Linked DNA regions of Homo sapiens: all the other regions are linked to region 2. The links come from fine-mapping of genetic effects on gene expression. A gene starts in region 2. Each other region holds a variant in brackets. All regions are shown on one strand. Distances are between the middles of the regions.

Region 1 (2,759 bases), 170 kb before region 2:
AACCCACAGCCTCAGGGCAATGAAGGGAATGTAGCACTATGCCAGATATCATGAGGACACAACAGGCCGCAGGAGCCCAGCATCAATTGATTATGTACAGAACTCTGGCTAGAAGTGGGGAATCAAAAGCTCCAACAAATAATTTATCATGAAAGTTAAAATTGAGGAGAAATGTGGGATTAAATACAAAAAGGAAGATCCATTCTATGCATAAAGGAATGAGGATGGAAGCTTATTGAAGCCATGAGCCATCATCGTTTCAGCTGAACATTGATTAGGCACCTATTATATGCCAAACACATATCCTGTCTAGATTCTAGAAATATATAGAAAAATAGAGTATGAGTAGAATATGAGCTTCAGGCAGACTGACCAACCAAAGGAAATGATCAAAAGCAAAAGTTGGGTCAGTCAGAAATCAAAATGCAGGAAGCTGGCTGGTGTTATACCACAAAGTGTGCTGTTTTTACATGGTATAGAGTCAGTTCCTCTGGTTGAGCCTTCCTTGACCACAGGCAATTAGTCATTGCTTCCTCCATCCCTACAGCTCTCTGTTCTTACCTCTACTGGAGAATTTATCCTGTTCTACCTCTTTTACTTTTTTATTTTCTTTTCAACAGAATTTGTAAGTCTCAATGTTCTACCTCTTTATGTTTGCTTTTCCCTAGATTGTATCTTCAACCCCTAGCACAAACCTTGGCATATAGGAGACATGTAATAAATGTGTTTCCATGATAAGCTTGAATCAATTAATAAAAGAGGAAAGTAACGTGCCTTGTTTGAAACCTCTCTTTAAGGCCACAGGTCTTGTCCTGCTGTATTAGAAAAGGCTGTTCTAAGAAAAAGGACTGAGTTAGAATGAAGTACATCCTTCACTCATCTTACAAAACCCTCTTTAAATTTCTTTAATACATAACTTGATGTAACACTGCAGAACTCTATAACTAAGTTAATGGCAATTCCAATTTAATAATTTTATTTATCAAGAAAGCTATAGGAAATAAAATCTTTCCATTACAGTAACAATTGGTTTGTCTATTGTACACTTCTTAAGGGCAAAAATTAAAAAGCATGTTTAAGGGAAAATAAAAGTTAGACATTTCAAGAAAATTGATATACCGTGAACCTCATCTTTCTATATGATGGTTTTCATATTCACTCGAAGAATGGGATTTAACTCTCTTCTCTCTCTCTCTCATTGTCTCTCCCCACCTCTCTCGCACGTGTGCGCGCTCACACACCCACACCCACCCACACACACAGACACTGTGGTACTTTAGTCTCATTAACAGGTGCCTTTCAGCTACTTCCTTTTTCTAAAACAAGAAGTATTGAGTCAGCAACTTGGCCAGGGGGAACTCAAAACAATGTCTATTAATAATGAAGAC[T/C]TCCTAATGTTGGCAAAATCTGTTTCCCCTTTAGAAGACTGAGAGAGCAAGCTACTAAAAGTTAGTATCCCTCACGAAGTCAAAGAGATTTAGGAAAAGCTTTCTAGAAGTCTTGATTTAGTTAAAATTTGGGCCACATATTTTGGGACAGAGCCCAGAGTTCTTTATGTTGGCTGTTGATAGAGGCAGCTTCCATTTCAAGATAAAAACTAACAAATAATTAAAATGTGTTAAATATTTACTGTGTTCTAAGTATTGTGATAAGCTCTTGTATGAACTTATTATTTGACCCCAACAACAGCCCTGATAGTGAAGCTGGGAGTGGAGATCTGGTCTTTCTGATTTAAAGGAGATGCTCTTTGCTGTTACCTTAAACTGTGTTCATCTGAAGTCCCTAATTTAGGATAAACGTGGGTGAGACATGGATGGAGTCTCTATTCTGAAGAACTTGCATTCCACAAATTTCTCATTGAGAGAAGCAGAGAAAGAGAATGCCAGTTTCCCAAGATGTCTCAGGAATAGGATTCAGGGTTTGGGATTGAATATCAGACAAACCTACATATTCCCTCCCTCTGCTTACATTGTAAGGTGTTGGCTCATTTCTGAAAGCAAAGGCATTTAAACTATCTCACGGACAACTCACTCTGGCCCAAACCACCACATTCACTTGAAACAAGAAGTGTATGCAGTGGTTCAGGGTGACCCAGCTAAGAGCAGTCCCATTTAAAGCTATTAAGTGTGGTTTCTTTTTCAGTGAGGTCATCCTGTTTAATCTCTCTGAATTGAAACAGCCTATAAAGCAGCCTCTCAAAAAGCTTATCTCAATTTGTTTCTGGGTGGACTAGAAGCTTCAACTTTTTAAGAGTGCCTTCTTAAAGTGAGGAGGAGGAAGAGTTTGGTAGCAAGAGGAAGGACTGGTAAGAAGGACAAAAGCAGTAAAATGTAGTCACATGGAGAAACTACTGAAGGGATTGCAAAAGGACACAGAAAGAGGTTGGGAGCACAGACAAGGAGGAAGTTTGAAGACTCCCTGTCCATTTTCTCACCATTCAGTAGATCTGTTCTTGCTTAGAACCAACTGTAAGAAAGAGAAGATATAGGAAGAATCACATTTCAGAGAATGTGTTTCCATATCCCACCATGGAAAACTGCCCACTGCAGTTTCAGCTTGTTTATAATGCATCACAGTGATGCCTTCCTGGAAACATGTATAAAATAAAAGGTATATGTCTTATTTAAAATTCTCTATTGACAGGTTTCTAAAATCAGAAACTTTGGGCGGAATGGGGAGGATGTGAGTAGTAATCTCACTTGAACATGCCCTCCAGGTAAAGTTAGAGGACCAGTGGCTTCTATGCCTTTGTCTCACCC
Region 2 (2,759 bases):
TGAATGCATACTTTGTCTTCTAACAATGCATTCGTGACAGCTGTCTATCCAATCGGTCCGCCTCCGTTCAGAGCAGTTCGTGCCACAGAAGCATCTCCTGCGCTATAGTTATGCAACCTCACTCGCAGCGGGAGTTATTTCCTCCGTTCTGGCTGCGCCAGATTCATGTAACACGCCTACCCTGGGCTTCAATGGAAGTCGTTCTCCATTAACAATCACTCCAGCTTTCCGAGATGAATGCCCTGATAGCATACCCCTTGCGCAGTAAGAATCCAGGCAGCGAGGCGAGGTGTTAAAACACACATACATTCTCATATTCTCTCTCTCTCTCTCTCACACACACACACACACACACACACACACACATACACTTCGTGCATGCAGCTAGGGGACTGCAGCAGTGCAACCAGGGGGACAGCAGGAGGAGCTCTCTTTGCAGTCCCTGCTTCTAACCCCCACTAACTAAAGATGAACTCATGCCAGTTCCATTCTTTGCTCTGCAAAGAAAACACACACACACACACACACACACACACACACACACACACACACACGGCAGAAGAGAGTAGCCTCCAGATTTCCCCTCTGAGCACACTGTCTTTCTAGCCTCTTCGTTCAAGCAACCCGGATATTCCAAGCAGAGTAACGGGGAGTAACGCGCCACAACAATGCAACCTCCCTAGCAGCTCCCCTCGCAGCTCCCACCCCCGCCCCCTTTCGCGGCGTGCCAAGAGTTTGGAGCGCGCGCACGCACACCGAGCACGGTGCAGGGAGGATATCCCTCCGCCTCCCTCCCCCTTTCTCCGCTAAGTGGCTCGACAACGATTTGGGAAATGAAGGGAGGAGGGAACTACTTTCCTGAAACTTGCTATGCTGCACATGACTTCGAGTTGCAGTGATTCGCCCGGAGGCCGCGGCTTTTAGTCCTACCCACACACCCTCACAGCCTGGGCACCCCGCTCGGCAGCCCCACCCCGCGCCCGCTCTGGCCTCCGGGGAAAGCGGGCGGCCGGGAGAAGTCGCGAGGGACTACTTCGCCTCCTTCTCTCGCGGGCGCCCCCGGTTCGGGCAGCGGCTGCGGCGGCGGAAGGAGCGGGCGGCGTGAGCGCTTCCGCCGCCCCCCTCGCGGCTCCCCTCTCTCGGGCGTGAGGAGCTGGCCCGCTGAGCTGCTGGTGGGCACTGGCTGGCGGGGAACCTGCAGCCGCTCTTGTCCTCTCCCGCCGCTTCTCGGGATCCTGCCCCCCGGACCCGGGCCCGCCCGCTCTTCTCCGGCCGGGTGGGAACGATCGGTTTGCCTGCCCCTCGCCTCACACGCTCCCCGCCGCCCCCTCCACCCCCCTGAGGAGGAGTCCCGGCTGGAGCGTGTCTGGAGGAATCCGCCGCCGCGGGGCCCCTAGCCCTGCTCTGCCGGCGCCTGAGGACCGACCCAGACGCCGCCGGGGGTTGAGGGGCAGCCGGCGGCGAGGCGGGAGATGGTGGGGTGGGCTCCGGCAGGACCGCGCCGCCGCTGCCCGGAGCCTGGGCTCGGCACCCCCCCGCCGGCCCCCACCGAGCGGAGCTCTGCTTCCTCCTCGCCGCATCCCTGAGGGAAGCGCCGCCTCTGCTCCCGGGTTCTCCGCCCGCCGACTCCTTCCTGGCCGGACCCCGCTGCGCTCCACCCCAGTGGCTGGAGGAGCAGCTCTCCAGTCAGCCTTTGCAGCCCCTCTCTTTTTCCCTTTCCACCGGGCCTCCTCGGATCCCTTGGCTGGGCACTGAGGCGGGGGAAGAGGCTGGGGTCGCCACGGCGGAGGTTGCTGCCGCCACCCCCCTGCGGGGGTGGCCGGGGTTCCCGGCTGGGGGGGTACCGTTCTGGGTGAGGCATCCACCATGGTGAGGCCCCTGTGCCGCTGCCCCCGCGCCCCCCCGGCCGCCGCTGCCTCCTGCCCCTCGGTGCTGCTGTTGCTCCCCCGCCTGCTGTTGCTCCTCCATCTCCAGATCGGATCACGGTGAGGGAAAGATGAGCGAGGAGACGGCGACTTCTGACAACGAGTAAGCGCCTCATTGATCTCGATTGCTAATCCCCCTCCCCCTATCCGCCCTCGGCTCTCCCCCAGACCCATCCGAAACTTGGGTGCCGGAAAGCTTGCGACCCTGGAGAGTTCGGTGCATCTTCTGGAGATAGCTGATTTCTTTAGCCATTTTTAGTGGCAGCACCCCTCCCCATCCTCCCACATTTAGCTGCTTTCTTTTGGGGTAGGGGATTAAGTGTTGGGAGAGGATGGCAATTGTACGTCTATGAGAGGGAATAATGTGGATGGATGGAAGTGGAGTAGAAACTACCCCTTTGCCTGTGAGACCCCTGTCCCGTCCTTTTTCACTCACATACCAGTCACCATACCTTCAGTATCCATCCTACTTCCTTTATAGCTGTTTCACTTGGAAACTAATGTGTGGGAGCACCTCCTGCAGCAAACTGCTCTTGAATCTTAATTCGATGAGTCAGTGACTCTTAAATACCGATTAAGCCTTCACCCTCTCCCCCCTCCCCCTTTTAAACTTATGACCTGTAAGATTCTTGTAAAAAATAGGGTTAGGGAAACATTTTTAGAATTTAATAGGATTAAGGACACCTGGAGTGTGGGCGATGTTGAGCTAGAGTTTACCTTTGTGAATATTGGACGTGTCTTCAGGAACGGAGAAGAATTTTGAATGCTAATTTTTACCTTTCAGCTATGTGAAAACACATGATTTACGTTGATGTAACCGAATTTACATTGCTG
Region 3 (2,759 bases), 130 kb before region 2:
CCACATGATTATCTCAATAGATGCAGAAAAGGCCTTCGATAAAATTCAACACCGCTTCATGTTAAAAACTCTCAATAAACTAGGTATTCATGGAACGTATCTCAAAATAATAAGAGCTATTTATGACAAACCCACAGCCAATATCATACTAAATGGGCAAAAGCTGGAAGCATTTCCTTTGAAAACTGGCACAGAACAAGGATGCCCTCTCTCACCCCTCCTATTCAACATAGTATTGGAAGCTCTGGCCAGGGCAATCAGGCAAGAGAAAGAAATAAAGGGTATTCAATTAGGAAAAGAGGAAGTCAAACTGTCTCTGTTTGCAGATGACATGATTGTATATTTAGGAAACCCCATCATCTCAGCCCAAAAACTCCTTAAGCTGATAAGCAACTTCAGCAAAGTCTCAGAATACAAAATCAATGTGCAAATATCACAAGCATTCCTGCATGCCAATAATAGACAAACAGAGAGCCAAATCATAGGTGAACTCTTATTCACTATTGCTACAAAGAGAATAAAATACCTAGGAATACAACTTACAAGGGATGTGAAGGACCTCTTCAAGGAGAACTGTAAAATGCTACTCAAGGAAATAAGAGAAGATGCAAACAAATGGAAAAACATTCCATCCTCATGAATAAGAAGAATCAATATCTTGAAAATGGTCATACTGCCCAAAGTAATTTATAGATTCAATGCTATTCTCATCAAGATACCATTCACAGAATTGGAAAAAAACTACTTTAAATTTCATATGGAACCAAAAAAGAGCCCTTATAGCCAAGACAATTCCAGGCAAAAAGAACAAAGCTGGAGGAAACACACTACCTGACTTCAAACTATACTACAAGGCTACAGTAGCCAAAACAGCATGGTACTGGTACCAAAACAGATGTATAGAACAGAACAGAGGCCTCAGAAATAACGCCACACATCTGCAACCATTTGGTCTTTGACAAACCTGACAAAAACAAGCAATGGGGAAAGATTCCCTGTTTAATAAATGGTGCTGGAAAAACTGGCTAGCCATATGCAGAAAACTGAAACTGGACCCTTCCTTACAGCTTATACAAAAATTAACTCAAGATGGATTAAAGACTTAAACATAAGACCTAAAACCATAAAAACCTTAGAAAAACCAAAAAACCTAGGCAATACCATTTAGGACATAGGCATGGGCAAAAACTTCATGACTAAAACACGAAAAGCAATGGCAACAAAAGCCAAAATTGACAAATGGGATC[T/C]AATTAAACTAAAGAGCTTTTGCACAGCAAAGGAACTATCATCAGAGTGAACAGGCAACCTACAGAATGGGAGAAAATTTTTGCAAATCTATCCATCTGACAAAGGGCTAACATCCAGAATCTACAAGGAACTTAAAGTTACAAGAAAAAAAAACCCCATCAAAAAGTGGGCAAAGGATATAAACAGACACTTCTCAACAGAAGGCATTTATGCAGCCAACAAACATATGAAAAGAAACTCTTCATCACTGGTCATTAGAGAAATACAAATCAAAACCCAATGAGATACCATCTCATGCCAGTTAGAATGGTGATCACTAAAATGTCAGGAAACAACAGATGCTGGTGAGGCTGTGGAGAAATAGGGACACTTCTACACTGTGGGTGGGAGTGTAATTTAGTTCAACCATTGTGGAAGACAGTGTGATGATTTCTCAAGGATCTAGAACCAGAAATACCATTTAACCCAGCAATCCCATTACTGCGTATATACCCAAAGGATTATAAATCATTCTACTATAAAGCCACATGCACATGTATGTTTACTGCAGCACTATTCACAATAGCAAAGACTTGGAACCAACACAAAAGCCTATCAATGATTAACTAGATAAAGAAAATGTGGGCTGGGCACGGTGGCTCACGCCTGTAATCCCAGCACTTTGGGAGCCCGAGGCAGGTGGATCACAAGGTCAGGAGATTGAGGCCATCCTGGCTAACACAGTGAAACCCCGTCTCTACTAAAAATACAAAAAAAATTAGCTGGGCATGGTGGCATGTGCCTGTAGTCCCAGCTACTTGGGAGGCTGAGGCAGGAGAATCACTTGAACCTGGGAGGCAGAGGTTGCAGTGAGCCGTGATTGCGCCACTGCACTCCAGCCTGGGTGACAGAGAGAGACTCTGTCTTGGAGAAAAAAAGAAAAGAAAATGTGGCACATATATACCAAGGAATACTATGCAGCCATAAAAAATGATGAGTTCATGTCCTTTGCAGGGACATGGATGAAGCTGGAAACCATCATCCTCAGCAAACTGACACAGGAACAGAAAACCAAACACCACATGTTCTCACTCATAAGTGGGAGGTGAACAATGAGAACACATGGACCCAGGGAGGGGAACATCCCACACTGGGGCCTGTCAGTGTGTGGGCGGCTAGGAAAGGGATAGCATTAGGAGAAATACCTAATGTAGATGACAGGTTGATGGGTGCAGCAAACCAACATGGCACATGTATACCTATGTAACAAACCTGCACGTTCTGCACATGTATCCCAAAATTTAAAGTATAATAATAAAAAAGAAATTAAAAAATGTAAATAAAATAAAAAGGGAATGCACATAACTGTCAACTAAAATTGCCTACCTAAGTCTAAAGCAGTCCTTTTTCATCAAAAGGCTATGTTCCAATATATAACAGCCGTTAACAGTCAAAGATTTTCAAGATTACTTCTCTCCCAGAAGTTTTCTCTAGTTAAGGGAGAGCAGTAAGATTTCTATTTTACTTTGGAT

What was found. PIP is the estimated chance that this variant, and not a neighbour inherited with it, causes the effect. A credible set is the group of variants that fine-mapping cannot tell apart.
Region 1: its variant is the best candidate, but not a certain one, in a credible set for the expression of SPRED1 in whole blood (TOPMed, PIP 0.56).
Region 3: its variant is the best candidate, but not a certain one, in a credible set for the expression of SPRED1 in monocytes (TOPMed, PIP 0.55).

Annotation. Positions count from the first base shown.
Region 1 is chr15:38,084,017-38,086,775 of GRCh38, forward strand. No RefSeq gene overlaps it. Among named protein-coding and RNA genes, the nearest start is that of LINC01852, 12 kb to the left of the region's middle. RefSeq lists a silencer at 1,999-2,058. The variant T/C (reference allele first, on the strand shown) is at 1,389.
Region 2 is chr15:38,251,190-38,253,948 of GRCh38, forward strand. It overlaps SPRED1 (sprouty related EVH1 domain containing 1), which reads left to right and starts at 1,647. Exons shown (of 7, transcript NM_152594.3): 1 at 1,647-2,028. The coding sequence starts at 1,997. RefSeq lists silencers at 59-353, 117-166, 997-1,296, 1,307-1,356, 1,457-1,556 and 2 more.
Region 3 is chr15:38,123,620-38,126,378 of GRCh38, forward strand. No RefSeq gene overlaps it. Among named protein-coding and RNA genes, the nearest start is that of LINC01852, 52 kb to the left of the region's middle. The variant T/C (reference allele first, on the strand shown) is at 1,248.